Regions from separate parts of the Homo sapiens genome. Here region 2 is linked to region 1. The links come from fine-mapping of genetic effects on gene expression. A gene starts in region 1. The other region holds a variant in brackets. All regions are shown on one strand. Distances are between the middles of the regions. Region 1 holds the start of NOC4L (nucleolar complex associated 4 homolog). Region 2 overlaps EP400 (E1A binding protein p400).

The links. PIP is the estimated chance that this variant, and not a neighbour inherited with it, causes the effect.
Region 2: its variant is fine-mapped to the expression of NOC4L in thyroid (GTEx, PIP 0.98). The same link has a PIP of 0.9 or more in whole blood.

What each region holds. Positions count from the first base shown.
Region 1 is chr12:132,140,370-132,155,130 of GRCh38, reverse strand. NOC4L (nucleolar complex associated 4 homolog) reads right to left here and starts at 10,674. Exons shown (of 15, transcript NM_024078.3): 1 at 10,526-10,674; 2 at 10,157-10,277; 3 at 9,466-9,572; 4 at 7,743-7,850; 5 at 7,349-7,498; 6 at 7,152-7,251; 7 at 7,025-7,059; 8 at 6,472-6,522; 9 at 6,236-6,347; 10 at 4,090-4,150; 11 at 3,763-3,873; 12 at 3,487-3,647; 13 at 3,311-3,393; 14 at 2,934-3,047; 1 more. The coding sequence starts at 10,642. The coding sequence ends at 2,730. It overlaps DDX51 (DEAD-box helicase 51), which reads left to right and starts at 10,812. Exons shown (of 15, transcript NM_175066.4): 1 at 10,812-11,138; 2 at 11,222-11,436; 3 at 12,253-12,403; 4 at 12,709-12,854; 5 at 12,941-13,012; 6 at 13,175-13,281; 7 at 13,525-13,633; 8 at 13,711-13,856; 9 at 14,111-14,300; 10 at 14,396-14,511; 11 at 14,592-14,708. The coding sequence starts at 10,835. RefSeq lists enhancers at 355-855, 10,592-10,891, 11,821-12,726 and silencers at 10,902-10,951, 11,022-11,221.
Region 2 is chr12:132,077,870-132,093,857 of GRCh38, reverse strand. EP400 (E1A binding protein p400) reads right to left here. Exons shown (of 53, transcript NM_015409.5): 53 at 13,398-15,988. It also overlaps the pseudogene EP400P1. Among named protein-coding and RNA genes, the nearest start is that of SNORA49, 55 kb to the right of the region's middle. RefSeq lists silencers at 7,244-7,420, 9,265-9,714, 9,735-9,814 and enhancers at 8,605-8,654, 8,196-9,056, 10,473-10,974. The variant A/T (reference allele first, on the strand shown) is at 9,748.

The DNA of each region.
Region 1 (14,761 bases):
GCTCTTCAGCTATCCCTCATTACGGATGTAGCTGTGACTTCACTGTCCGGCAGCCGCGTTCATTTCCTGAAGGGAGACCCGGAATCGGGGGACGGGAGGAGAGGGAGAGACAAGACAGAGAGGGAGCGGGGGAAGCACAGGGGGAGAGAGGCCCCACTGGTGCGGCGCTGTTCTCCGTGTGCAGTGAGGACACCGCCGGGTACACGCAGGTGCCGGCTGGGTATTGGCCTCATAGGTGATTGAAGGGGCCCCTGGAATTTCTCTAAGATTCTGGAACTGACGGTGTCTCAGTCCGTCTGCACCACTGTTACAGGTTACCTGAGAGCAGGTAACTTCTAAAAAGTGACACTGTCTTCTCTCCAGTTCCGCAGGCCGGGAAGTCCAGGATGAAGGCACCAGCCTCTAGCGAGGGCCTCCTGGCTGCGCCCAACCTGACAGGAGGCCAAAGGCCAGAGAGCAGCCGGCTCAGCACCACGTGAAGAATCCACTTTTACAAAGGCCTGAATCCCATTAACAAGGATGGCGCCCTTGCGGACGAGGCACTCCTAACACCGCCTGGTGGGCAGCACCTGGATCTGGGAGGGCAGGCGCTCCTCCACAGCACAGGGGACGTCCCCGTGCTCTCGGGGATGGCGGCAACACCTGTATTTCAGAGGGCATGCGCTCCTCGGGGGCAGCACCTGGATCTCGGAGAGCACACGCTCCTCCACAGCACAGGGGACGTCCCCGTGCTCTCAGAGATGGGGGTCACCAGCCAGGGAGAGGGGACCTCAGGCGGTGAAGGAGGTCCCTGTTCATGCCCGGCTCATGCGGGGAACACAGGGAGCAGAGGACCGAACACGGTTACGTGGAGGTTGCTAGACACAGAGCCCCTCTGACGACAGAATCCAAGCCTGGCTGACTCGGAGGCGCTTTCACTCTCCTCCTGGCCTCGCCCATCATCCGAGATCCGCCTAACAGCCCAGCACAAACCCTCCGTGATGTCAGGAGGGAGGCCCTGGCTGAATCCGAGCAGGAAATACTGCAGACCCCGGCGAGGTGAAACCTAGCAGGGCAGCTCGGGCGCTGCAGGCCTGGGCAAGGCTGCAGCGGCCTCTGGTGGCCGCATGAGCTCAGGATGCCAGCACCTAGGCCCAGCCCTGCCCCAGGAGCCCAAGGAGGGCGGGGAGGGGGGCCAGGGCTCTGGAGCGTACCCGGTGTGACAGGCTGCCTGGGACACAGCAAGAGGACGGGCCCTGTCTGCCCTGCTGCAGCGGGAGTGCTGAGAGGGCTCGGGCGGGACAGCATGAAGAGTGGGGAAGGAGGGGCGCCTGTGCAGGACTACCACGCACGGGGTACCAGGGAAGGCCTCCCGGGGGGACGGGGACGGGACGTTCAAACCAGGGCAACACAGGGAAAAGCGGCAGAGGCCACAGCTGTGGCTGGTGCAAAGGCCCTGGGGCAGGAGCCAGTTCACTTGAGGAGCCCGCTGGGGCAGAGGGAAGCAGCCAGGGGGATGCTGGGAGCAGAGGCAACATCTCCACCATCACTCTGCCCCCCAAAACCCCGCTGGGCACACGGAGGGTCCCGGCCAATGCTGGGCCGGCAGGGTGACACCCCCAAGCCACGGCCAAGGCACTCCCCGCCCTCCCCAGCCACACCCACGCGCACCAAGCTCTGTTCCAGTGCCCCATCCCACCCTGTCCTCGAATAAGCAGACTGTCAAAAGGAAACTGGGGGTCACTGTGTAGACAGAAAACCTAGTTTGTTTGGTATAAATTTGGTTCCCTAAAAATAAACACCCCGATAACAAGGCTGTGCTGCAGCCGGACCAGCGCCTCCCACAGCGGGGGAAACTCCACTGCAGCTGGACCAGGGCCTCCCACGGGGGTGGGGGCAGGGAACTCCAGAGGGGCCCAGGCACTGCCTGTAACTCTACGCAGCATCTACCCGGAACTCTACGCAGTATCCACCCGGGGCCTCTACACAGCACCCACCCGGAATTCTACGCACCATCCACCCAGAACTCCACGCGGCATCCACCCGGGGCCTCGCGGGGCTCCCAGAACGAAGGCCAGATCGGCAGGACACAGCCAGCGTGGGATGCTGACACTCACAGGAACCCCCGACTCACACCAACCCCCCACTGACACCAACACCCCCCACTCAAACCAACCTCCCATTCACACTAATCCTAACCCACCCCCCACACACACCACCCCCCCATTCACACCAACTCTCCCCTCACACCAACACCCCCACTCACAACCAAACTCCCCCCAGTCACACTGACCCCCCACTCACACCACCTCCCCTCACTCCCACACACACCATACCCGTCTACACCACCATACACCTCCCACCACAACTGACCCAGGCAGAGAGAACCCCCCCAACCCTGCTCCCTCCCAGGTGTCTGGAGTGTAACCTCAGCAGAGGCCCCGAGCTCTGCCAACAGGGAGGTCACTGGGGCCAGGGGATGAGGGAGGCTGGGTGACCGGTGACACTGGTGGGCCGGAGGCCCTGGGAAAGACCACGCCTCAGGTTCCCCACCATCCCCTCCCAGGCTGTGGAGTCGGCAGGGGCCTCGCTTTGCCATGTGCCTGGTGGGCTCAGGCAGATGTGAGGCCCTCGGCCTGGCAGAGGCATCCAGCCGCCCCAGTCCACACTCCCTGAGCCTTTCTCCTGCAAAAACATTTATTCACAGGTGGGCTGGGGTCAGCTGAGATTTATTCACAGGTGGGCCAGGGTCAGCTGAGCGTGAAGTGCTGGGCACAGAGTTCACCCGGCCGTCCCAGCAGGCCCTGGGCTGGGATAAACTCCAGTGGCACCGGCTCGGGCCCCTTCTTCTTCAGGTCCCGCTCAAAGATCTGCAAAGCACAAAGCACGGCGGCTCTCAGGCTTGGCTCAGCGCCCCGTGGCCCAGACCCTCGCACCCTGGCCCAGTTCCGCACCTCGTAGGCCGTGAGCTCCAGCAGTGGCGCGATGCTGACCTCAGGCATGGACAGGGCCTGGTTGATGACGCTGGCGGCTTTGGACACCTCAGGGTGGTAGTGGCGCTGGAGGGCCTGGGGCAGTAGGGCCGTTAAGAGGCAGCTGCCCCAGGCCCCCGCCCTGTGCCCCCAGCCATGGCCTCCCTGTGCTCCCAACCAGAGTGGGCGGGGTCGGGACGGAGCCACGTGAGAAGGCCAAGCACCCAGCACCCACAAACCCAGGTGGCCAGCTGGGGACGCAACATGAGGCTATGCGGGAGGTGGCACGGGGAGCTGGGCTTTCTGAGGGGCCGAAGGATGGCTCGGGAGGCCCCAGGGTGTGGCAGCAGCGCCCTCACCTGAAGCTCCCACAGGGAGCTCTCCAAGGCCCGGCTCTGGGCTGGGTCCTCCTCTCCAGGGTCGTAGGGGTCGGCGTCCAACTCTAGGAATGAGACGTGGGCCCTTGTCTGCCGTCCACAGCACCAGGCACCCCCGCCCCAGCTCCAGCCCAGCCTCCGAGGGCCCCGCAACTCACCAGGGCCGTGTGGACGGTGCACGAGGACCCGGCAGGCAGGGTGCCGGCGCAGCAGGTTACAGATGAAAGGCAGGACCATGAGCAGGGCCTCAGGGGGAGCCGTCAGGGCCAGGCGGGCCAGCCGCTTGGCGAAGGCGGCCACCAGGTAGGCGGGGAGGTGGCTGGGCAGGGCAGTGGTTGTGAGACAGGGCCCGGACTGCTAGCCCCCACCACCCTCCCCTGGCCCCAGGCTGCAGCCGCACAGAGCAGGGCAGAGCCAGGTGCCCTGGTACTCACGAGGAGGACAGGAAGAGGTCAGCCAGGTGGAAGAAGCGGGCGCGGTACTTGACGTGAAAGACAGAGGGGTCCAAGAGGCCGTAGAGCTTCCGGTAGAAGTCAGGGTACTCCCTGCGGGCCGGGGGGAAGGAGCAGCGGATGGAGCAGGGCCCGGGAACTGAGGCCTCCAAGGCCAGGGTCTCACTCGGCGCCCCTTCCTCCCGCCCAGGGACTCCAACACCATGGCCTGTGAGGAAAGCGGGGACCCCGTGGGGCAGGGTGGGAAGGGGACAGAGGAGCAGGGCTGGGCAGACTGGGAAGAAGACCTGCACCCCTGGTGACACTCACAGGTTGTGTTTGTGAATCAAGATGAACAGCCCGTTCAAGGCCAAGAGGCTGAGGGCCCCCCCTGCAGACAGACAGACACAGGCTGGAGCTGCAGTGACCTCGCTCCCACCCTACCCCCTGCCCACACTGAGTGTAAGTCTGTGGAGTGTGGCCTCTGCCCCTGCTGTCCCCTCCCACAGCCCCCACGGACACAAAGCTGGAGACCACATGCAGGGCAGGGGAGTGGGGGGTGGAGGCAGTGGGATCGGGGAAGAGGTGCTGCGGGGTGGGGGTTGGGGGTGTGAGCGAGGCGGCGGCACTCACCGAGGGGATTAGGGGTGTGGTGTGAGCGAGGCGGCGGCACTCACCGAGGGGATTAGGGGTGTGGTATGAGCGAGGCGGCGGCACTCACCGAGGGGATTAGGGGTGTGGTATGAGCGAGGCGGCGGCACTCACCGAGGGGATTAGGGGTGTGGTATGAGCGAGGCGGCGGCACTCACCGAGGGGATTAGGGGTGTGGTGTGAGCGAGGCGGCGGCACTCACCGAGGGGATTAGGGGTGTGGTGTGAGCGAGGCGGCGGCACTCACCGAGGGGATTAGGGGTGTGGTGTGAGCGAGGCGGCGGCACTCACCGAGGGGATTAGGGGTGTGGTGTGAGCGAGGCGGCGGCACTCACCGAGGGGATTAGGGGTGTGGTGTGAGCGAGGCGGCGGCACTCACCGAGGGGATTAGGGGTGTGGTGTGAGCGAGGCGGCGGCACTCACCGAGGGGATTAGGGGTGTGGTGTGAGCGAGGCGGCGGCACTCACCGAGGGGATTAGGGGTGTGGTGTGAGCGAGGCGGCGGCACTCACCGAGGGGATTAGGGGTGTGGTGTGAGCGAGGCGGCGGCACTCACCGAGGGGATTAGGGGTGTGGTGTGAGCGAGGCGGCGGCACTCACCGAGGGGATTAGGGGTGTGGTGTGAGCGAGGCGGCGGCACTCACCGAGGGGATTAGGGGTGTGGTGTGAGCGAGGCGGCGGCACTCACCGAGGGGATTAGGGGTGTGAGCGAGGCGGCGGCACTCACCGAGGGGATTAGGGGTGTGGTGTGAGTGAGGCGGCGGCACTCACCGAGGGGATTAGGGGTGTGGTATGAGCGAGGCGGCGGCACTCACCGAGGGGATTAGGGGTGTGGTAGGAGTGAGGCGGCGGCACTCACCGAGGGGATTAGGGGTGTGGTGTGAGCGAGGCGGCGGCACTCACCGAGGGGATTAGGGGTGTGGTGTGAGCGAGGCGGCGGCACTCACCGAGGGGATTAGGGGTGTGGTGTGAGCGAGGCGGCCGCACTCACCGAGGGGATTAGGGGTGTGGTGTGAGTGAGGCGGCCGCACTCACCGAGGGGATTAGGGGTGTGGTAGGAGTGAGGCGGCGGCACTCACCGAGGGGATTAGGGGTGTGGTGTGAGCGAGGCGGCGGCACTCACCGAGGGGATTAGGGGTGTGGTGTGAGTGAGGCGGCGGCACTCACCGAGGGGATTAGGGGTGTGGTGTGAGTGAGGCGGCGGCACTCACCGAGGGGATTAGGGGTGTGGTGTGAGCGAGGCGGCGGCACTCACCGAGGGGATTAGGGGTGTGGTGTGAGCGAGGCGGCGGCACTCACCGAGGGGATTAGGGGTGTGGTGTGAGCGAGGCGGCGGCACTCACCGAGGGGATTAGGGGTGTGGTGTGAGCGAGGCGGCGGCACTCACCGAGGGGATTAGGGGTGTGGTGTGAGCGAGGCGGCGGCACTCACCGAGGGGATTAGGGGTGTGGTGTGAGCGAGGCGGCGGCACTCACCGAGGGGATTAGGGGTGTGGTGTGAGCGAGGCGGCGGCACTCACCGAGGGGATTAGGGGTGTGGTGTGAGCGAGGCGGCGGCACTCACCGAGGGGATTAGGGGTGTGGTAGGAGTGAGGCGGCGGCACTCACCGAGGGGATTAGGGGTGTGGTAGGAGTGAGGCGGCGGCACTCACCGAGGGGATTAGGGGTGTGGTGTGAGTGAGGCGGCGGCACTCACCGAGGGGATTAGGGGTGTGGTAGGAGTGAGGCGGCGGCACTCACCGAGGGGATTAGGGGTGTGGTAGGAGTGAGGCGGCGGCACTCACCGAGGGGATTAGGGGTGTGGTGTGAGCGAGGCGGCGGCACTCACCGAGGTCGCAGGCGCGGGTGAGGAAGTCGATCATGAGCGTGGGCTGCGCCAGCTGCGGCAGGATGGCGTCATGCACAATCAGCAGCACCTTCTTGTAGAGGCTGAGGGGCAGCTGGGCGGGGGCCGGCAGGTGGGGGTGAGGGGCGGGTGGGCGGGGGCCGGCGGGTCGGGGTGAGGCCTCCGCCCTGGGGGAGACCCGGATGCCGCCCCCGCCCCCTCCCCGGCCTGGCCCCTACCTTGTGCTTGAGGAAGCTGAGCCACATGGCCTGGAAAACCCTCCTGTGCTCCTGCAACGGGGTCCAGACTGCACTCGCCGCCCTCCCCACCCCAGACCAGAGCCCGAGCAGCTGCCAGGGCACCCCGAAGCCCAGCCTGAGCCAACACAAGCCTGCTCTCCACTTTTCTGACCCTGCCTTCCTTCTTCCTGTCCCCATTCAAGTCAGGTACGCCTTGCCCTCGAGGCTGGAGTCTCAGAACAGCCAAGAAAGCAGCTTTGGCAAGACCATGGCCAAGAGGGGGGCTGCGCCCAAAACAGCCCACGGGGCCCACAGGTGGCACCAGAGGCTTGACTCCAAGAGGCGGCGGTGGCCTCTGACCCAAGGGAGGGTCCCGAGTTCACAGGTCTCGTCACCTCCCACACTTCGAGTGACCTGGTGGCCGTGCAAGCTGCCACCTGTACCCTGGGAGTTTCCTCTGGTGAGGAAGGCGGCAGCCTCCATGGGGTCTCACATGCACCCCACACACACCCCCAAACCCGGGAGGGTGCCCGGCTCTCCAGAAGCAACTCACCTTCAGGTGAGCAACCTTCCAGGTGTCCCACAGCTCTGCAGGGAAAGCGAGGGCAAAGGTCACCTGACCCGCAGGGGAGGCAGACCAAGGCTCAGCCCTGTCCGCCCCTGACTCTCAGCACACTCACCCGCCCGCTTCACATAGAAGCTGGAGACGGTGGGCTCCCGGCGGGGCAGGCTCACGGCAGACAGCAGCGTGAAGGCATTGTTCCAAAAGGCGGGGGGCACCTGCGGAGCCTGGCCTGAGTGCCTGGACGCCGCCCCCCAGTCCCTGCCTCCCTGGGAGGCAACAGCATGATGCTGGCGACAGGACCCCATCACCCACCTCGGGGTGCTGGCCAGTGACCCGGGCCACGGCATCCACGGCTGCCTGCATGGTGTGGTAGCGGGTGTCGTCGTAGTCCAGGTACTCCCGGAACTGGGACAGGAGCAGGCTCTGGTCCTCCTCAGGAGACAGCAGGCCTCCCACCACCAACTAGGGGCAAGGACCAGTGAGCAGCCCTGCCCGGCCCAGCATACGCCAGCAAGGTCCAGGCAGGCAGCCCTGCCCCATCGAGCCCCCCAGGCAGACTCCTCCTGGTTGGGTGGGCCACAGGAGCCACAGGAGTGTCCCAGCCAACAGCCAGGCTCAGCTCAGCAGGCCCCGCCCCCACTACGGGGCCATCCTGGGATCTGGCCAGCCAGCCAGGCCCTCTGGGAGTCCCCAGCAAGGCCCTCACCTTGAAGAGCTCTCGGGGGAACAGGTAGTTGCCTTCCCACTTGGACTTCTCCAGGGGGTGCGCTCCTTCCAGCTGCACGAACTTCAGGAGTGCGCTGAGGGCCAGCTCCTGGGAAGGGGGCAGTGCAGGGTGGCTGTGATGCCCTCACCCCACGGATGGGCCCAGAGCTCAGCCCAGTCAGGGAGCCCCTCCCATCTAGGCCCAGAGCTGAGAAAAGGGCGGCCGGGCCTTCTCTTGCTCCACACGCCACCAGATGCCACTCTGGGCTTCCGTGTCCCACCCATGACGTAGAGATGACAAGATCTCTAGTTAAAGAGATCCAGTGCTCACGACAGAGTCTGGCGGGGGAAGGGTACACAGCCCAGGTCTGCTTTATGGGCCACCTGACTGCTCTCTCGTCACCTGTGTCACGGGAATGCCACCATAACCCTTGGGAACAGCTGTGAAAACACAGGCGTGTGATGCCAGCATGGTGCCCAACTCAGACCCAGGCTTGGAAGCTCTCATCTCGGGGTGGCAAACTCAGTGCTTTCAGGGCCCAGGCAAATGACACCACAAAGCAAAAGAGCCTCGTGCGGGATGACAGGAGCACACGGCTGTCTCAGAGCTGTCTCTGACTCTCCCTCCAGCCAATCGCAGCCATGAACAAACTTAGACCCCGTGTTGACAGAACTGATTATTTCTTTCTGAGAAGGTGGAAACTGGTTATTTTCACGTGGTATCTCCCCAACATTTAAAAGTCTGCAGCTCGGCTATAATTATAGACAGACGTGTTGGCGAGGATGTGGAGTATGGAACTCTCAAATGCTGCCAGGGGGAGGGTAAGATAGCGCAGCTACTATGGAAAACAGTCTTGTAGTTCCTCAGAACATTAAAAACACAGCTGCTGTGTGGCCTTGTAATTCCACTGATAAGGCATATTCAAGCAAAAGAAACATCACACAAGAGTTTGTACGCGAACGTTCACAGTCCGCTGTTCGTAACAGCCAAAGGTGGAAACGACGCAAATGCCCAGCAACCTACGAGCGGCTGAACGATACGTGCTGTGCTATACGACGCGCTGCTACTCAGCCACAAAGAGAACGAACTTCGAACACGCCGATGAGTGGAAGAAGCCACATACCGTATGATCCCCCTTATGAGGAGCGTCTAAAAAAAGCAAACCCATTGATCCAGGAAGTAACCACTGATCCAGGAGTGGCTGCCTGGGGCTGGGGGTGGAAAGGGGCGGGATATGGAAGCGATGGTAACTGGTACAGGATTTCTTTTCGGGGCGATAAAGATGTTCTGGGATAGCGGCAACCACTGCACAACACAGTAACAGATGCTAACTTCTCAGCTTTAAACGGTAAACTGTGCCTCAGTTATTCCTCACTACAGATTTTAAGAAAGCTCATAATGCATTCCCATGGCTGCAGACCACAGTGTGATCTGAGCAAACACATCTGTGGACTGGCACGAGGCTTGGTGTGCGTGCTCTATGCAAACACAGAGATCCCCGTGGATGCCACTGGAAATGAACACGGATTCTGCGTCTTCAATATTCACTACAGGACTCGATAGCCATGTTTCTGAATGGGACTGAACACCCACAGGGTGATGCTCCCATGAAGGAAGCAGCTTTGCCTGGACAATTGTGGGAGCCCCAGACCTCTGCTTTGTGGATAACCTGGGAGTTGGGGTGCAGGGGATGGACAAGGATGAGGCCAGCCCAATGACCCACCTTGACCTGAAAGGAGGGGTGGCCCAGGAGCTCTCCCAAGCGATTGCAGCAGCTGTGATAGCGGTGTCTCATCCACACCTTGTACTTCCGTGTGGCTCCCTGGGACCCTGCAGACAGGTTAGGGTGGTCAGCCCACGTGAGGCCCACATACGCCACCCTGGGCCCAGCCCAAAATCTCAGGCCTGGCTCCACCCTCCCATTGTCTTCTACTCAGCCTCCGCAGGTGGAAACAGGTCGCTAAGGCCCCCAGACCTGTGCTGAGACCAGCACATTCCCTGAGCCCTGCAAACAGGAAGAGCACCTCCTACCCCAGGACTGCCCCAGCCAAGCTGCCAGGAGCAGGATCCACATCCCCTCTCTTTACTCCAAGACCTGACGTCCCCAGGATGGGGACATAAAGGAAGCTCCGAGTTTAAGCGACCGTGTCAGGATCAGTCAACATCAAATTACAAAAGGGGTGCAAAGCACACAAAAAGTCGTACCTTGTCCAGTGTTCATCTACACTCAGCTGCAGGGCACCCATGTCACCCCTGCCCCAACGCCACCATCCATCTTCCACGGTGGGCTTGGTGCGTCCTCCCACCAGCCTGCACGGCCTGTGCCAGGGTTGGGGGCGCTCATCCCATGGTGACAAAGCCTCCCTCCGACCCACGGAAAGAGAAGAGCAGCCCCGGGGCCCTCCAGGGCTCACCTGTCATGACCATCTCCTCAGAGGGCAGCTGGCCCACAAACAGCTCTCCCCGCTCCAGCAAGGCCCCGAAAAGACGGCTGCACGTGCGGACTGCTTCCTGGATCTCCTCCTGGTCCTCAGACTGCAGGAGAGGCGGCGGCAGGGTGCCCGGCCGCCAACTGTCACCTTCGCCCCTGCCTAGGCTGCCCCCAACCCGTTCCCTTCCCCCTCGGGACGCCAGCCCCGTCACCCCCGACCCGTGACCCACACGCCTCCCACCCTGACCCCCCAACGCCGTCTCGGAACCTCCTGGGGACCTGCCGCCGCAGCCCCCCATTCAAGTCCCGCTCCCGTGCCGCGACTCCGGCCCTGCGACGCCGCCAGGCCCACCTGCAGCACGGCCAGGATGTCGAACACGGCGTTGGCCTCACTGCGGCTCGCCAGCACCGCCTCCAGCCGGCGGCCCAGAGCCCGGCGAACTCCCGCGGCGCCCGGCTCCCGCTCCATGCCGCCCCCAACACGGAACAACGCGGATTCTCAGCCGCCGGCGCTCCCGTGACGTCACCACTGCGCGTAGAACCCGACGTCATCTCTACGCGCCGTACCCCAACCCCATCTTTTGCGCGGAGCCCGAGTCGCAGGCGTGCCGCCGACGTCATCGCAGCGCGCCACGCCCGAGTCCCAGGCGTGCGGCTGGCCATGGCGCTGTTCTACGTCGCGCGGTACCCGGGCCCCGATGCGGCAGCTGCGGCGGGGCCGGAGGGCGCGGAGGCCGGGGCGCACGGCAGGGCCCGCGCGCTGCTCGAGCGGCTGCAGAGCCGGGCCCGCGAACGGCAGCAGCAGCGGGAGCCCGCGCAGACCGAGGCGGCTGCATCGACCGAGCCGGCGACCAGGAGGCGACGGCGGCCCCGGCGGCGGCGGCGGGTGAACGACGCGGAGCCGGGGAGCCCGGAGGCGCCGCAGGGAAAGCGACGGAAGGCGGACGGCGAGGACGCGGGCGCAGGTGGGCCGCGGGGCGAGCGGGCTCCCTCTGGGGCGCCGGCGACTCGGTGCTGACGCGCTGCCGGGTGGGTGTCTGCCTCGCAGAAAGCAACGAGGAGGCGCCAGGGGAGCCCAGCGCAGGGAGCAGCGAGGAGGCGCCAGGGGAGCCCAGCGCAGGGAGCAGCGAGGAGGCGCCGGGGGAGCGCAGCACCAGCGCCAGCGCCGAGGCGGCCCCAGATGGACCGGCCCTGGAGGAGGCGGCCGGACCCCTGGTCCCCGGCCTGGTGCTGGGGGGGTTCGGGAAGAGGAAGGCGCCGAAGGTGAGCCTCGGCGGGCGGGAGGGTGGTCGGCGTGAGAGGGTAGGCTGCGCGGATTCTTAAGTGCGGCGGTCGCCCCGGAAGATTTCGTTCAGCGAATGTTCCCGGGTCACAGCCGCGCCTCGCTGCCAGGTCTGCAGTTTCATCGCCTAGGGGTCTGGATCCTGCACGTGCAGAGCTCCCGTTTCCTCTGCTAGGCTTGCCCCTGTCCTCCCGCCGCGCCGCGCCAGTTCTGCAAGATGTGTTTGCGTGAACGTGCGGGGTTTCCTGCTGTGCGCTCACCGCCTCAGGAGTAAGTCAGAGGCCGTTCTGCAAGCTCCTGACCGTTGGTGTTTTTGCTTAGCACGTGTGGTTTTCGGTAAAGAGATTTCCGGCGAGACAGGTGAAGAAAGCGAGAAGTTTGACAGAGTGCTCGGGCACCTTAGGTAGGGCAGGTGGAGGAGGTTCTCTTTGAGTTGGGATGCAAAGACTTGAAGCCAGGTCAAGGTTGGGGGTTGGGGGTGCCAGGCAGAGGCCTCGAGGCAGGGACGCCGGCGTGGCTGGGGCAGGCGAGCGCCAGGTCACAGGACCTCCTGGCTGCGGGAGGGTGGGTGCCACTGTGGGTTGATGGGAGGCTACAGAGTGAGTTTGCTCAGGGAGTGGCATCTGCTTTTACTGTTTAACTTCTGAAGGCTGTATGGAAAGCGCATCCTGGGGCTGAGAAGGAGCTGAAGACGACAGAGGTTTCCCCAGCCTCCCTCCCCTAGCTTTTTCCACCGTGGGCTTCTGCGCGAGAGCCTGGAAAGCGCTCACCTGGCCTCTCTTTCTTTTTGATGGCAGGTCCAGCCTTTCCTGCCAAGGTGGCTGGCTGAGCCTAACTGTGTCAGAAGGAATGTCACCGAAGACCTGGTTCCTATCGAGGACATCCCTGACGTCCATCCTGACCTGCAGAAGCAGCTGCGGGCACACGGCATCTCGTCCTACTTTCCAGGTGCCCCAGCCCCGGGCAGGCAGCTGAGGGAACACCTCCCTGGGCACCCACACACAAGGCTGTGAGTGGCCGTGGGTCAGGCGTCCCTGCCACATCGGTGCCAAGTGTGGTCTCAGCACTCTCAAGCTCATGGTTCCCACTTGGGTCTCCTGAGGCTGGCGTTCCTCTGGGCCTTGGTGCCATCCCTCTGGGGAGCGGTTCCCAGGCCTCCAGCAGAGCAGCCCAGCCCAGAGGTCACAGGCAGGGAAGCGGCAGGCCTAGGCCTAGGCGTAAACACGACTTCTCTCTCGCCTTTCCTCATCCAGTCCAGGCAGCTGTGATTCCTGCCCTCCTGGAGAGCGCAGCCTGTGGGTTTCTGGTGGGCAGAGGTGGCTACCGGCCTAGCGACCTCTGTGTTTCTGCCCCAACAGGCAGTGGGAAGACACTGGCCTTCGTCATCCCTGTGGTGCAGGTCTGTGTGAGGGTCCCCTTTCTCTACAGCGGGTGTGCAGAGGACAGGTAACAGCCTTGCTGACGCAGGCGCTCCTTCCCCCTCAGGCCCTGCTTTCGAGAGTGGTCTGCCACATCCGTGCCCTGGTTGTGCTGCCCACCAAGGAGCTGGCCCAGCAGGTATGTGGACCCTAGACCTGGAGCGTGGCACCGCCCGCCTCAGCTTCCCTGCTGAGTGCACAGCGATCAGCCCCTGGGGGACCCAGATTAGATCTGGGGTCCTTTTTGCTGCAGTAGGTGGACACCAGCTACCTCCAGGCCAGTGACAGACTTCTCCTGCAGGTGAGCAAAGTTTTCAACATCTACACAGATGCCACACCTCTGAGAGTCTCCCTGGTTACGGGACAGAAGTCTCTGGCCAAGGAGCAGGAGAGCCTCGTCCAGAAAACGTAGGTTGTGTCAGGGTGCGGGTTTTTCAGGGGGTCCCTGCTCAGCCCTGCAGGTGGCCTGAGGCACCGTGGGAGCAGAGGAGGGGCCACCATCTTTAACCACCTGTTCCCGTGAAGAGGAGGAGCTCCCACCGGCCCCCTTCCCATGTGGGGTGGAGTCGGGGCTGTGGGGTGAGGCAGCGTCTTGCTATCCGGAAGCCCTTGAGAAAGCTTCCTTCTCTCGAGCTGCTCTCTGGTCTGTAGAGCTGATGGGTACCGCTGCTTGGCTGACATCGTGGTAGCCACCCCCGGCCGCCTGGTGGACCACATCGACCAGACCCCAGGATTCAGCCTCCAGCAGCTCCGCTTCCTGGTAGGTCCCCGCCCCAGGGGCCTGGGCTTTGAGCTCAGGGCCGCGCCACCCAGTCCCGGGCTCCCTGTCTCCTGCAGATTATCGACGAGGCTGACCGGATGATTGACAGCATGCATCAGTCCTGGCTGCCGCGGGTGGTGGCGGCCGCCTTCCAGAGCGAGGACCCCGCGGACCCCTGTGCCCTGCTCCAGCGAAGGCAGGCCCAGGCTGTGACAGCCGCCAGGTATCCAGCAGCACGCCCAGGTGCTGGCCTCCCCTGAGCAGAGTCCTCTGCACACAGCTCTCCTTCCTTAATGCCCAGAGATAAGGGTGGCTTGAGCTCTGGTGCACAGAACCGCATCGTACTGTCACGTGAGCTGGACCCACCTTGCTCCTGGTCTGCGGCAGTCTCTACAGTGCGTAGCATGAGGAATCCTGTTCCCTGGAGGTTCGGGGCAGCCACTGGTAGGGTGCCAGCAACACCCCCTTCTCTTCCAGCACCTGCTGTCCCCAGATGCCCCTGCAGAAGCTGCTCTTCTCAGCTACTCTGACCCAGAACCCTGAAAAGCTGCAGCAGCTGGGCCTCCACCAGCCCCGGCTTTTCTCCACAGGGCTAGCACACAGGGGCCTGGAAGATACAGATGGGGACGGGGATTCGGGGAAGTATGCCTTTCCTGTTGGGCTCACGGTGAGTGGGATACCGTGTGGGCAGAGGGTTGCACTGGGAACCTGGGGCCCCTAACCAACCCTCACCTCCACCCCGACCCCCTGCCGTCCCTGTAGCACCACTACGTGCCCTGCAGCCTCAGCTCTAAGCCGCTGGTCGTCCTGCACCTGGTCCTGGAGATGGGCTTCTCGAGGGTTCTCTGCTTCACTAACTCCCGAGAGAACTCCCACAGGTGAGGCCCCGGCTGGGCGGGGGTGGCAGAGGTGGCCTCTGGTCCCAGCATCACTTGGCCGCAGCCTTCTCTCTGCCTAGGCTCTTCCTGCTGGTGCAAGCTTTTGGGGGTGTGGACGTGGCTGAGTTCTCCTCGCGCTACGGGCCTGGCCAGAGGAGGATGATCCTGAAGCAGTTTGAACAGGGGAAGATCCAGCTGTGAGTTCCTGGGCAGGGGCAAGGCCTCTGTGGGGTGGGGGTGCCCACTCCAG
Region 2 (15,988 bases), 62 kb after region 1:
GGCACGGTGGCTCACGCCTGTAATCCCAGCACTTTGAGAGGCTGAGGTGGGCAGATCATGAGGTCAGGAGTTCCAGACCAGCGTGGCCAACATGGTGAAACCCTGTCTCTACTAAAAGCACAAAAATTAGTCGGGCGTCGTGGCACATGCCTGTAGTCCCAGCTACTCGGGAGGCTGAGGCAGAAGAATCACTTGAACCTGGGAGGGGGAGGTTGCAGTGAGCTGAAATCACGCCACTGCACTCTAGCCTGGGTGACAGAGCGAGACTCGGTCTCAAACAAACAAACAAACAACTTTGTACTTGTGAAATTTTTATAGGCCATAAATAAAATATGCATTAAGTCCCCAAAATGAAGGTTATACATAACAAATTAATTATATTTTAGATGCCAAATTCATAAAACTAGAAATTCATCATAAAAATGACAAAGAGTAGTTGGAAGTTTTTAAAAACCACTAAATAATATCTGAACCAAAAAAAATTAAACATGAAATTACGAACTTCTCTAGAAAGTTAAAAAAACAAACAAAATATAGAGTATTTCTCTTTTAAAACCTATGGGAAACAAAGCTGTACTTTAAGAAAAAGTTACAGCTTTCAGTATTTTTATTATCAAAATAAAAGGCTGAAAATAAGTGTTCAATTTAAGAAAGTATACAAAAACTGAAAACAACAAAATGAAACAAACAAACAAAAGTAGTAGAAAGGCTAAATTAAACCAAAAACTGATTCTCTGGGAAAAATAAATAAAATGGATAAAGTCCAAGCAAGTCTGATTAATGAAAAAAGAAAAAATAAAAACAGACAAATGGGCCAGGCGCGGTGGCTCACGCCTGAAATCCCAGCACTTCAGGAGGCCGAGGCAGGCGGATCACGAGGTCAGGAGATCGAGACCATCCTGGCTAACACGGTGAAACCCCGTGTCTACTAAAAATACAAAAAATTAGCCGGGCGTGGTGGCGGGCGCCTGTAGTCCCAGCTACTCGGGAGGCTGAGGCAGGAGAATGGCGTTGACCCGGGAGGCGGAGCTTGCAGTGAGCTGAGATCGCACCACTGCACTCCAGCCTGGGCGACAGAGCGAGACTCCGTCTCAAAAAAAAAAAAAAAGAAAAAGAAAAAGAAAAAATCAAAAAGAAAATTAAATATCTATTGTTTTAAAAGACTCTAAGAGACAATGGAATTTTACTTAACTGAGCTCTAACCTTTAAAGCTCAAGTAATTCCTATGCTATTTAAATATTTCAAGTTTATGGAAAAAATAGAAATCTCTCTAATTCACTTTACGAAATTAGCATTTAATACCCAAACCTGACAGTACAAAAAAGCAATAAACTTATAAGAATTTTGCATATGCGTGGTATAAAAATTATTTTTAAAAATTCATAAATAGAACCGAGCATACACTCAAAGAAAAACACACTGACAAAGGGGAGTCAGTCCAGTAATTCAGGGAGTGGGCCAATATCAGGAAATCTACAAACTTCACCATCATTTTAAAGCTAAAAGCCACTAAATGAAAAAAATGATACAAAATTTAGCAGTTCTTCTGAATAATAATTCAAAGTAAAACACATATCAAAGGAAACAAATTGAACATAATGTTTTAAAAACTAGCTCCCAAAACTCAACAGCAATAATCATATTAAATGTTGATATGCAGAAACTAATTCCATTAAATCAGGAACACAAGGATGCAAATGTCACCATTTCTATGTAGCACTTCAACAGAGGTTTTAGCAGTTAAAAATAAAAAGAAACATGAACTAAGTAATGAGGGAAGGGAATATAATTTATTATTATTATTTACATATATATTTTTTAGAGATAGGGTCTCACTCTGTTGCCCAGGCTGAAGTACAGTGGCACAATCTTGGCTCACTGCAGCCCCGACCTCGCAGGCTCAAGTGATCCTCCCACCTCAGCCTCCCAAGTAGCTGGGACTACAGGCGCCCCCCACCACACCCGGCTAATTTTTTAATTTTTTGTAGAGACGGGGTTTTGTCATGTTGCCCAGGCTGGTCTCAAACTCCTGGGCTCAAGTGATCTTCCTGCCCCAACCTCCCAAAGTGCTGGGGTTACAGGCATGAGTCACCGCACCTGTCCTGAAATTATATTTATTTGTATATGATATAATTGTATGCCTACAATACCCACGAGACCAAAACTTGTAAGAATAACAATTTGGCCAGGCACAATGGCTCACACCTGTAATCCCAGCACTTTGGGAGGCTGAGGTGGGTAGATCGCCTGAGGTCAAGAGTTTGAGACCAGCCTGGCCAACATGGTGAAACCCCGTCTCTACTAAAAATACAAAAAATTAGTCAGGTGTGGTGGCGAGTACCTGTAATCCCAGGTACTCTGGAGGCTGAGGCAGGAGAATCGCTTGAACCTGGGAGGCAGAGGTTGCAGTAAGCCGACATTGCGCCACTGCACTCCATCCTGGGCGACAGAGTGAGACTCGGCCTCGAAAAAAAAAAAGAATAACAATTTTGTTGAGGTGCCTGCAATCAAGATAAATATACAAAAATCAACAGGCTTTTTTTTTATGTCAGCGATAGACAACTGAAATGGAAATTTTAAGATGTCCCATTCAAAGGCCACAAAAACTATAAAATACCAGTGTACATTTACCAAGTACATTTACCAAGTACATTACCAAGAAGTACATTTACCAAGAAGTACATTTACCAAGAAGAGAAATAAACTATATAATGTTAGTAAAGAACATTAAAAAATACATGAATAAGGCCGGGTGCGTTGGCTCACACCTGTAATCCCAGCACTTTGGGAGGCCAAGGCGGGCGATCACCTGAGGTTGGGAGTTCGAGACCAGCCTGACCAACATGGAGAAACCCCCATCTCTACTAAAAAAAACAAACAAAAAACAAAATTAGCCAGCTGTGGTGGCACATACCTGTAATTGCTACTCAGGAGGCTGAGGCGGGAGAATCGCTTGAACCTGGGAGACGGAGGTTGTGGTGATCCAAGATTGCGCCACTACACTCCAGCCTGGGCAATAAAAGCAAAACTCCGTCTCAAAAAAACACGAATAAAATGAAGCAACATACCATGTTCCAGAATAAGATTTACTATCATAAAATGTCATGCCTTCACAACTGAACATATACATGTAATGCAATTCCAAAGAGGATTACAATGAGTTTGGGTTTTGTTTTGCTTTAGAAATAAGAAAAAAATTAGCTTAAAGCTCAATGAAGTGATATGTTTTTAAAGAGACAGTGCTTTTTTGAAAAACATAAGAATACTGACAAAATAAAAGAAAAACAAAATAGTAGAATTCCTGACTTAGGAAAATAGTCATACTTATTCTAGAGCTTCTGTAATAAAAAAGCAATGTAGGTATATACAGCTATTGTGTAGCCATAAAAATTTAAAGTTTAAACTAAAAAAAAGTAGCATGCTCTTGGCCTCCCAAAGTACTAGGATTACAGGTGTGAGCCACCATGCCCAGCCTGAAATTATCTTTATTTGCAAATGATATAATTCCATGCCTACAAAATCCGAGACAAAAACTTATAAGAATACTTCGAATTCGGTGAAGTGTCTGTAATCAAGATAAACATACAAAAGCCAACAGGTTTTTATGGAAAAAAGAAAAAGAGGAAAGAAAAAGGAAAAAGATTAAAAATGTATAGATACTTTAATGGTAGTGGCATTGGGAGAAAATATCTGCAAACCATACATTTAATAAGGGGCTAATATCCAAAATATATAAGGAACTGAAACCACTCCATAGCATGAAAACAACCTAATTTAAAAATGGGCAAAAGACCTAAATAGACATATCTCAAAAGAAGATATACAAATAGCCAACAAATACATGAAAAAAGGCTCATCATCACTAACCATCAGGGAGATGCAAAGCAAAACCACAATGAGATTATCACCTCACAACTGCTAGGATAGCTATTACCAAAAAGACAAAAGATAGTTAAGTGTTGGCGAGGATATGGAGAAAGGGGAACCCTTGTGCACTGTTGGTAAGAATGTAATTAGTACAGCCATTATAGAAAACAGTCCGAAGCTTCCTCAAAAAAATAAAAATAGAATGAAGATATGATCCAGCAATCCCACTTCTGGGTGCACAGCCAAAGGAAACAAAATCAGGATGTTGAATAGTTATCTGTACTCACATGTTGATGGCAGCATTATTCACAGTAGCCTGGGTACCCATCATCAGATGAATGATTTTAAAAAGTGTGGTATATATACAACACAAAGGAATAGTATACAGCCATTAAAAAAATAAGGAAATTCTGTCATTTGCAAGGACATGGATGAGCCTGGAGGACACTGTGCTGAGTAAAATAAGGCAGGCTCAGAAAGATAAATACCACATGATCTCACTTACACGTGGAATCTAAAAAGGTTGAACTCATAGAAACAGAGAGAACAGTGGTTACTGGGGCCGGGGGGTGGGGGAAAAAGGGAAGGGGGATATTGATCAAAGGGATCAATTTCAGTTAGATAGAAAGAGTAAGTTTTAGTGATCTATTGCAGAGGATGATAATTATAATAAATACGAATGCATTGTATATTTCAAAATTTCTGAAAGAGTAGATTTTAAATATTTTCACCACATAAAAATGGTGTGTGAGGTGATGGGTTTGTTAATGAGCACAATTTCATCATTCTGTAATATAAACACATTAAGACATCACGTTCTTCATAAATATATAATATATACAACAATTATTTATCAATTAAAAATTAAGGCCAGGCATGGTGGCTCACGCCTGTAGTCCCAGCACTTTGGGAGGCTGAGGTGGGCAGATCCCTTGAGGCCAGCAGTTCAAGACCAGCCTGGGCAACAGGGCAAAACCCTGTCTCTACTAAAAATACAAAAATTAGCTGTGCACTTGTGGTCCCAGCTACTCAGGAGGCTGAGGTGGGAGAATTGCTTGAGCCCGGGAGATCAAGCTTGCAGTGAGCCAAGATTGTGTCACTGCACTCCAGCCTGGGTGACAGAGTGAGACTCTGTTTCAAAAAACTTTCCTTTAAAATTTTTAATTACATTAAAATAAGAAAAAGAAATGGTAGTAGCATCTAGGGGGGAAAAGGTTATCCCCTACCTTACACCATTTCAATCAGAATAAATAACTAAATGTTATCATGGAAGGAAGAGGAGGCAGGGAGGAAAGGAGGAAAACACCCCTACCTCATACCATTTCAGTCAGAATAAAGAACTAAATGTTATCCTGGAAGGAAGGAAGAGGAGGCAGGGAGGAAAGGAGGAAAACACCCCTACCTCATACCATTTCAGTCAGAATAAAGAACTAAATGTTATCCTGGAAGGAAGGAAGAGGAGGCAGGGAGGAAAGGAGGAAAACACTTTATTGGAATAATATTTCGGGGACTATCTCTACAACTGCGAGGTGGTGAAAGCTTCTTAATAAGTAATGCAGGAAACCCAGATGCTGTAAAGGAAAAAATACATGACTACATAAAAGATGTTTTAAACAAGATCAAAAGACAAAAAATAATTAGCAGAAAAATACATGCAATATTTTATTACTTCAAAGGGTAAATATCCCTGTTATCCAAAGAGTTTGGCTGGTTGCGGTGGCTCACACCTGTAAGTGCAGCACTTTGGGAGGCCAGGGCAGGCAGATCACTTGAGGTCAGGAGTTTGAGACCAGCCTGGCCAATATGGTGAAATCCCATCTCTACTAAAAAATACAAAAATTAGCCAGGTGTGGTGGTGCCCGTCTGTAATCCCAGCTACTCTGGAGGCTGAGGCGGGAGAATCACTTGAACCTGGGAGGCGGAGGTTGCAATGAGCCGAGATCACACCACTGCACTCCAGCCTGGGCGACACAGCAAGACTCCATCTCAAAAAAGAGCTACTATAAAATAGTTAAAAAAAAAAAAGAAAAGAAAAGAAAAGGAAACCTCTCCAGGAAATGGGGAAGAACACAATGGAAAACTTCAGAAGAGGCACTGCCAATGGGCCAGTCCACGAAGTGCAGCACACGGCGCCAGCAGGACATGGCAGCACCCATTCAACAGGCAGTATGTCAGACGGGAGCAAAGCGTCCTCCCCTTCATGGCTTCAGGAATGTAACTTTGCTATAACTTTGGGAATAGATCTCTCAATAACTATTGAAATTTAAATGTTAAATATGCATACCCTTTGACCCACTAACACCATTTAGCTCCCCTTCATGGGAATCTAGCCTGTAGAAATGAAAGAAAGTGTCAGGACCCATGCATAGGAATGTGTCTCTCAGTACAAACTGTGGCAAAAAAACAGACACAAAATGAAATCCATCAATGGGGAATGGTTGACTAAATATGTTGTATCCTCAGTACGGACTATTATGTAAACATAAAAAGAATAAATTTTTGCCTGTAATCCCAGCACTTTGGGAGGCTGAGGCAGGCAGATCACAAGGTCAGGAGATCGAGACCATCCTGGCTAACACAGTGAAACCCCGTCTCTACTAAAAATACAAAAAATTAGCCAGGCATGGTGGTGGGTGCCTGTAGTCCCAGCTACTCGGGAGGCTGAGGCAGGAGAATGGCGTGAACCCGGGAGGCGGAGCTTGCAGTGAGCTGAGATCGCGCCACTGCACTCCAGCCTGGGCGACAGAGCGAGACTCCGTCTCGAAACAAAAAAAAAAAAAAAAAAGAGAATAAATTTTTATTTCCTGACATGAGCAGATGTTGAAGACATATTACTAACTGAAATGGAAAAAAAGATGGAGGGTGTTATTACAGCACAAAAGGACTGAAAAGGACTTATTTTTCTGTATTGTTTGAATTCTTATGAGGGTACATTTTGTAACATCAAAAAGCAAATTAAAAATATGGCTCATTCCAAGGTACAAAAAATTACTCTGGCAAATCAAAGTTTTTCAAAGTATCTTCAGACTCAAAGAAGTCAAAAAATAAGCTGGACACAGATAGACACTATTTGTTCCTGTAGCAGCTGGAAACCACAGTGAAAGGGCGTTGGCTTTTCCTCCTTAGAAGGGCCTCAGCACCTGACTTTGGAGAGAGCCCATTCTTTGCCATTTTTCCTCTACATGGTGGTTGTCAATGGACTCTTAGGGGACCAAGAATCACTTTACAACATTCTGTTCTCCTATTCAAAATGGGTCATGCTCCATACTTCTCAGAGTCATCACCCAAAATCATACATTTCAATGCTTTTTCAAACATGTGAATACCACCCAGAAAATTCGTAAGCATGCCATTATCCTCCAGGCCCTTTATTACATGATCACCATCATTAAAGTCCTAACACTTAACCATTTTGTAGTAGTTATGACAACTGTTACCTTAACAGTGAACAGATCAGATGACAACGTATCCATGGCCAGGTGGGACGATGTGGACCCAGGAGGACCTAAAATCATGGCCAAGAGACCTCTGCACCACATGCTGACTCTGTAAGGCCATCTCTCCTTGAGTGCTAGGTATTGTTGAAGGAGGGAGTTTCTACTTGTCTCTACTGTGACTGAACATGAAGTACAGACTTTTATAAGTAATATATATATTTTTTGAGACGGAGTTTCGATCTTGTTGCCCAGGCTGGAGTGCAGTGGTGTGATCTCAGCTTACCACAACCTCCGCCTCCTGGGTTCAAGCGATTCTCCTGCTTCAACCTCCCAAGTAGCTGGGATTACAGGCAAGCACCACCACACCTGGCTGATTTTTTTTGTATTTTTAGTAGAGACGGGTTTCTCCATGTTGGTCAGGCTGGTCTCGAACTCCCGACCTCAGGTGATCTGCCCGCCTCAGCCTCCCAAAGTGCTGGGATTACAGGCATAAGCCACCACACCCAGCATAAATAATAATTTTTAAAAGTGCATTAGTTTAGCAAAAACGTGACAGGGATGTCAGTGAAACACCTTTGTGTTACAACTGTCATTTTGTACACCTTGGACAATTCCATTCAACGAACAATTTAGTTAGTTTTGAAGTCTCAATAACATAGTCAGAAAAGAAACTGCTGTAATCTCCCCTTATCCATGGATTCAGTAACCCTCGGTGAACTGCAGTTCAAAAACATGTGCGTACAATACAGTAAGATATTTTAGGAGAGAGACATCACTTTCACATGACTTTTATTACAGTATATTGTTACGACTGTTCTATTTTATTATTAGCTGTTATTAATCTCTTCCTGTGCCTAGTTTATGAATTAAACTTTATCGTAGATATGGAAGGATGCATAACAAAACAGTGTATATAGTGTTCACTACTATCCTTGATTTCAGGCATCCATTGAGGGTGTTGGACCGTATCCCCTGAAGATAAGGTGGGGCGACTGCACGTGGATTGAGAGGTGCCCTCACTGCTGCAGAGCTGTGGTAACAACACTCACTTGTGGTTCCCAGACAAGACTCTATCTGGTCGTGAGCCCCCAACAGCCAGTGGTACTGCTGTCCAATCTGACAGATGGAAACCAGCGCCAATCAGCCTGCCTGGAGCGGCACAAATAAGCCTAAGACTCAAACTTTCAGCCAGTTAACTGTAAGTAAACCAACTTTTTGGTAAGGAGGAAATACTCACCCAGCTCTTGGGCAAGATAAGTGTCTTTATTATAAAAGGCGTCAATTCGCAGCGTCTTTACTGTAAAGGTGGTGGTATTATTAGATTCTTCCTTTCCACTAACACAAAACTCCCAGTGCCGGAAGGCCCTTGTCAGGAGCAGGACCCGCGGAGGGGTCCGTGGTCAGTTCTGGGACAGCTGCCGAGCAGCGCAGCGCGTGGAATCAACTTCACTGCTCACGTGCAGCGCACACTAAGCGCACTCGTCTTTCCTGGAGTGCAGACCAGGCCCCGACCTCAGGGATCAGGACAGCGGGGCCAAGGGGTCAAGAGGCAGAGGCGGCGTCAGCGCCGTAGACAGCGGTCTCGCGAGGCTGGAACCAGGCGGGCGGCAGTGACGGGGGTGGGCACCAGGGGACTGGGTGAAGGGTCATGAGGGGAGGGGCGGTTACCGGGCCAGACGGTCACAGGGATCGTGTCACCGGGGAAGGGCTGGGAGGTCGGGGGTTTGTGTCACGGGATGGGGGGGAGCGGTCACCAGAAAACGGGGTGATGCGGGAGAGGGGGCGGAGGAGGGAAGGCGGGAAAACGGCAGTTGCCAGGTGGCGGGGGGAGGGGTCGCAGGGGGAGGGGTGGGCGCTCACGGGCGCAGGGTCACCGAGGGATGGGTGGGCGTTTGCGGGGGGTCATGTCACGGGGGAGTGTTCACTGAGGGAGGTGGGCGTTCACGGGGGATCGTGTCACGGGGAGGGGGTCCCTGAGGGAGGGGTGGGCGTTCGCTCAGCCGGGGTCACCGGGTGATGGGACGGAGAGAGGGGAGCGCGCGGCCGGGGAGCCTCGAGGGTAACCGGCGGATGTGGGCGGTCGGGGGCCGAGGGTAGGGCCAACCCCTCACGCCCGCCACAGCCCCGGCAGCGGATACGCGGGCCGTCACTCACCGCGGCTGCCGGGCGACGCAGCCAAGGGCTCCCGGCGCGGATGAGCGCTGCGACAGCGGACCGGGCGGCGAGGCCACTACAACCGACCAAACCGACCGGCCGACGCGGAGCCAGTGCGCAAGCGCGGGAGCCGGCCCGGCACTGCGCAGGCGAGGCTCGGACCAATCAGCGCCCAGCGGACCCGGAGGGACGTGGCGGAGGGGGCGGGGCGGAGGGGGCGGGGCGGATAGGGCCGGGCCTCGGTCCGCGCCGGCGCGCGCCTCTGGCTCCGCCCGGAACTAGTTTGTTC[A/T]TTCATTCGCACGTGGGCACTGAGTTGTATTTGCCCGCCCTCCCGCCGGACACCTGCTGAGCGCTGGTCACACTGACAAGCACAGCTAGCGGCTCCCCTCGCGGGCCCTACAGTCTAGGCGGGGAGGATAGATAAACATGCAGTTAGAAGAGCACCAGGCAAAGCAGCCGGGATGGGGCAGGCTGAGGTCTGTTTTAAATTGGGCAGGGGAGTCGGGGTGCCTAGGGAGATGAGATGTTACGTGGGATCCGAAGATCCACAAGACTCTTGCCTGTGACCACTGAAATGGTGGGACATGTCCCTGGTTTCGTCGTGTCCACTGTAGACGGGTGAGCTTTGGAGCTGTGCATCAGGCGCCTTCCACTGCATAACCTGCCCATCTATTTAAGAGTGAAACCCGTATCACTTACCACCTGTCCATTTCTTCATGGTACTTATCCCCTGAATTATTTTATCTGACCTGCTAGGATGCAACCCCCTTTTTTATTTTGCTGGCAAGTATAGCCTAGTTGTCTAAACTGCCACATAGTATGTACTTTATAAACAGCTGAATAAACCAGTAATTCATCCATCTCTCTGATCAGCTTTTTTTTTTTTTTTTTTTTTTTTTTTGAGACGGAGTCTCGCTCTGTCGCCCAGGCTGGAGTGCAGTGGCGCGATCTCGGCTCACTGCAAGCTCCGCCTCCCGGGTTCACGCCATTCTCCTGCCTCGGCCTCCCCAGTAGCTGGGACTACAGGCGCCCGTCACCACGCCCGGCTAATTTTTTGTATTTTTAGTAGAGACGGGGTTTCACGGTGTTAGCCAGGATGGTCTCGATCTCCAGATCTCGTGATCCGCTCGCTTCGGCCTTCCAAAGTGCTGGGATTACAAGTGTGAGCCACCGTGCCCGGCCAGCTTTGATTTTCTTAAACAGCCAAGTGTTGTCCTTCCGCCACTCCAGCACTAGTGGTAAAGTTGGCATGAAATATGCTACATTAAATATTCATTGAATAGGGATAAAACAGAGCCACACTACAGCTGGAGAAATAAGACAAATACTGTTGTTCAGCCCAAGATACTACTGGAGGAGAACACTGGGGAGAAATGAATAAATGAATGAATGAATGGATGCACACTTAGTTAAGTGGGAGTAGTCTTCAAAGTAGGAGAAATACTTTACAACAAAGGAGACGAGCACAAAGTCAGGGAGACAGGAAAGGCTGCACAGGGGGCAGAACGATGCTGCTCTGGGGGCTGGTCGGAGTGTAGGTGGCTACACAAGATCAGGCAGGAGGTCGGAAATAAAGGTTCCCGAGTAGGGGACCATGTGACAAAAAAGCTGATAGGGCCTTATTTTAAAAATTAATTCATGGCCGGGTGCGGTGGCTCACACCTGTAATCCCAGCAATCTGGGAGGCCGAGGCGGGCGGATCACTTGAGCCCAGGAGTTCGAGAACAGCCTGGCCAACATGGTGAAAGCCCATCTCTACTAAAAATACAAAAATTAGCCAGGCATGGTGGTGCGCGCCTGTAATCCCAGCTACTTGGGAGGCTGAGGCAGGAGAATCGCTTGAACCTAGGAGGCAGAGGTTGCAGTGAGCTGAGATCACGCCACTGCACTCCAGCCTGGGCGACAGAGTGAGTGAGACTGTCCCCACCCCCACCCCGCCCCCACCACACAAAAATTCATGCACTTGGCAAACTACCTGAACAGTTAAAAGGACGCGCATAACAGTGCAGATCAGCAGCCTTGATCCTTGCCCCCCAGTCTCTCCCTCCACAGAGGCAGTGCTAACACAACGTACAATCGTCCCTCAGCACCTCCCATGGATGCCAAACTCCGAGAGGCTCAAGCCCCTGATGCAAAATGCATATAACTCAAAAACATCTTTTTAAAATCATCTCTGGGTTACTTACAATAGTGAATGCAATGTAAATGTCATGTAAATAGTTGTTATGCAGCATTGTTTAGGAAATAATAACCCCCCCAAAACAAGGTCTGTATATGTTCAGTATAGACACATTTTTGTTTCTGAATATTTTTGCTCCTTGGTCGGTTGAACTCATGGACGTAGAATCCACCACATGCAGGGGCAAATACTTCCAGGATATTCTATGCACATCCAGGCATACAACCAGTTCCATCCTGGTAGCATACTTCACAAACTCATCCCCCAGCACAGCTGTACTTTGTAGAGGCTGCACTGCATTCCACCGAATGTATATAGCATAATCTACCCAATAAAATGGGAACTTTAGAAAAATTAGGGGAATAGATGCTGCAGCAACAGCATAGCAGGGCACCCTATGGCAAAGGAATCTCCCCTCCCATTGCCCTGGATCACAATGCCCAACTCTGGGGTGTTGGTGGGCAGCTGTCACACGATCTGACATCTCGAGTAGGAGGTGACACAACACACTCCGGGCTCAGAAGCTACCTTAAGGTCTTGACGGCTGTGCGCAGGCACAATTGCTTCACCCACTGGCCCCTGGTCGCTACTGGACAGCAAACAGAAACACAGCTTCCAGGCCAGATAAGCCCGCCATAGGGCCTGCTGCCACAGGCACACTTGGCAAAGACGTGATGGTAGGGTCAGGATGACAGAAACAGTAGGCTTTGCAAAACCTGCAGTCCTCTTCGTTGGGAGTATAAAAGACAGACACCAAGTGCAGCACCCAACATTGGACTGGATCCTCAAGCCACCTTAGGAGAGGGGACATGGGGACACAGAGGCCCTGAAGGAGGAAGTCACCTGCCCCTGGTTATGTGGCTGGTAGGCATGGAGCCGCAGGTGCACCAGGCACTGCAGTACAGACCCCCAGAGGCCAGGGAGCACCAGCCGGGCTTTGCAGCTGGCTTTCTCGCCCACCCTGGTATCTGCACTATCACCTGCAGACACGAAGTGTGCAACCAGACCCTGGGAGCTTTCAATCTGGAAGACCGGAGGTGGAAGCCCAAAGCTGCAGGGCCAAGTGCCCGTGCACCCCCGTTTTTGTGGTGGGAGAAAAGATACAGAAACTAAGGGGCTTCTGGGATGCTTCTTTACTTTGCGTAATGTGTGCGTTTTCAATTAAAAGTGTACGTTGATTTTTGTAATCAGATTTAAAACGAAACGAAGAAAAGTCTAAAAGCAGAAGAAAAAGAGAAGCAACAACTCGCAGGCCATCTGCTCACAGGCGTTTTCGGTGGTGAGCACCTGTGAGCCGGTGTCCCTGCCCTTACTTGGGCACACAGACTGGGTGTGGAAGGACACTGGTGCCAGTTGGGCACACAGACTGGGTGTGGAAGGACACTGGTGCCAGTTGGGCACACAGACTGGGTGTGGAAGGACACTGGTGCCAGTTGGGCACACAGACTGGGTGTGGAAGGACACTGGTGCCAGTGTGGCCCCCAGGACATTGACGACGGGTGCTGTGAGGGTGGCAGGCCACATGGGGCAGGGCGGTGCCAGCTCTTTCCTCCACGTGCGGCTTTGGGAAGCGGCTGCCTGGTGGACTTGGTGAATGTGATTTCTGTTCCTTCCAGGTCCTTCTATGGCCACGGAAGAGTGGGTGAGGGGAACACCTCTGGCTCCAACATTACTTGTTGGTTTTTTCTTCACACAAATGAAAAATTCAGCATCTCATTTAACTTAAATACCAGTTTTCTATGAAAGACAAAATGAAAAAATATATAAAAAGGTCACTTTATTTTGCCTTTTGTTTGGTATGCTATCAATGCCCTTTAAAATCCTACTATTCAAGTACAAATGCTGATGTTTACAAAGTATTTACAATTTTAGTCTTGTTCCTTTCTATCTTAAAACACAACAGCTAACTGGTTACAACAGTTAACAAAATAATAATAATAAAGGTCACAAAAAGAGAAACCCCTGTCTTATCAGGCACCAAATCTGAACAAGGGCTTGGATCCAACCTTCTGCTTCCCGCCAGGTGCTTTAAAAACAGTCTGGCTAACTGTTTTTATCATCAGAATAAACGTCTTTCTTTAAAGAATAGCAGGGCAACTGTTTCCCAGGGTCGCCAATTAGAGTCTGACAGTGTTCGGGCTGCTGCCTTTATAGTCTGTGTTCTCAAAGTTTCCAACTCTTACTTGCCGTATTGGAATGAACCCAGATTCACAAGGGGAAGGCCTAGACAACAGCTTCCTGAACGCGTACTTAATTCTTAGGTTAGAAACTTTAACCTTTAAAAGGGAAGGCCAAGAAAATAACACACTAAAAGGAGAGTTTTTACGTACACGACTAAATGAATTTAACTCAGGTCAACGGTAGCATCTAGAAGTTACTAAATTGAGTGCTACGAGTAAAAATATGTCCGTGTTTTGTATTAGGGAACAGCCAAAGGAAACACACTTGAGAGACAGGAGACCCTCACTGACGTGAGATCGGGGCGGAAACTCCACATTGCAAATATTCAGAATCCCATTAAGCTCTCCAAAAAAGCATTTGAGAGATGGTGTTAAATTCTCTTGTAGTGTTTTAGATTAATAGAGCGCTTTTACTTAGACAGTTATGTCTAGGATATTCTAAAATAAGTGCACTCAACATTTTATCTTCAACTATAAGGAGACTACCAAGATTTGGGAAAGACAAAAAAAATGAACAGGGCACACAAATTAAAACAAATGACAAAGGCAGAATTCCTAGATACTTCAGTTCTATCACATCTGCGGATGAGGAGGAGTAAAAGTTTCCACTGGGAGCCAGATGTGAGGCGCACACAGCGGCCCTCCCTCCGGCAAGCTGCGCTCTCACGGCACGTGCCAAGCCAGGGAGAACGGGTTGGTTAGAACAAACAGATTCCAGTCCTCTGCTTTGGTATGTTCAACTAACTAAAAGATTAATTTCTTCTGTTTCTTCAAAGCTTGGTTTTTACTTTTCTCCACATTTCTTATCAAGAGCTCAAGTGAGCTCCCCAGTTGATTTCACTGACTCCTGCTGTATCGCTGTCCACAGAAACCTGTGGGACAGAATACCTTCCTCAATGTCACTTAAAGTGAGAGAATGGGGAGGAAGCAGATGAAATACAATTTAAAAACAGAAAATCTTTATTGTGCCATAACTGATTTTTAGTATACAAAAAACCTAATATAACCTAATTTCCTGGACCAAATAATGTAAAATAGGCCAAAATCAAGCCACAGCACAAAGGATACTATTGGATATGGACCTTTTTGCTTTGGTGAAAACTTCAAAGTAAGGAGACACTGTCAATCAATTCCACTAAAATTGCATTTATTTTCCTGTCATAGTAAAAAAAGGAAAAACAGTAGCAAATACTGGGCTTCGTTTTCCCCCTCAACGGCACGCCTTCCACAACAGCACAGGTGGTTCTCTGCTTCACTGGCAGAACCACACAAGCTTATCCTAGAGAAAATCTGCTGTCGTAAGTCCACAAGGAAGAGTTGACTGGGCCCACCGCTATAGCCAATACTTCCAGAATCACCAGCCCACCTTCGTCAAAGGGCTGACTGTGGCAGCAAGGGGTGTCTGTCACATTCGTCCTGGCTCACTGAGCCCAGGCCTCATCGTACCCTCAGCTGTGACATCTGTACTACCATTGCCTCTGCGTGGTCCTCTGGGCCTCACGCCAGCCATGGCAGAGTGTCCCAAAGGTTCTCAGGAGCTGTTTAACACACTATGTCAAATACCAGCTTCCCCCGAAAACTGGAGATGCGTCTTGAGTGCACTGAGTTGGGCATCAGTCCCAGAAGTTTCCATTAAATGAAAGCGAATCCCATTGCAGGGTAGGGCCTGGGGGAGGCCACTGTTGGCTGCTCTTTGGAATAACAATGCAATGACTGATCATTTCCCTTGAACACAGGCCAGGAACGTGCCTTGTGTGTTTAGGTGGGTGTCAGAACATTTCTCTTAAAAGTTAAGTCATATTTTAGGAGGGAAGGAAGGAACCATATTGCCTTTCTTTGGAATGGAAAACCCATCTCGGATGATTGACTTTAGACAGGCCTTCCCCTCTGCGAAGACCACGAGGCATTTTTCAGTAAGGTATAAAGAACTAAACTCTGGCAGACACTGTGGAAGCCCACGCCTTATCTTTAGAAAGTCCATTGTATGCTCCTCACACACGGCAGACGGCTTCTGTGGCGTGCAAAGCACTACATGCTCACAAAGAAATTCTAAATGGCTTTCAGAACACAGTACTATGGCTCTAGGGGACGGGTGCGGGTGGGGACTGAAAGGTGAAATGATTTAGAGGAAGCCATGTTGTCACTTTTTCCATGAGCCACGTAGTACAGAG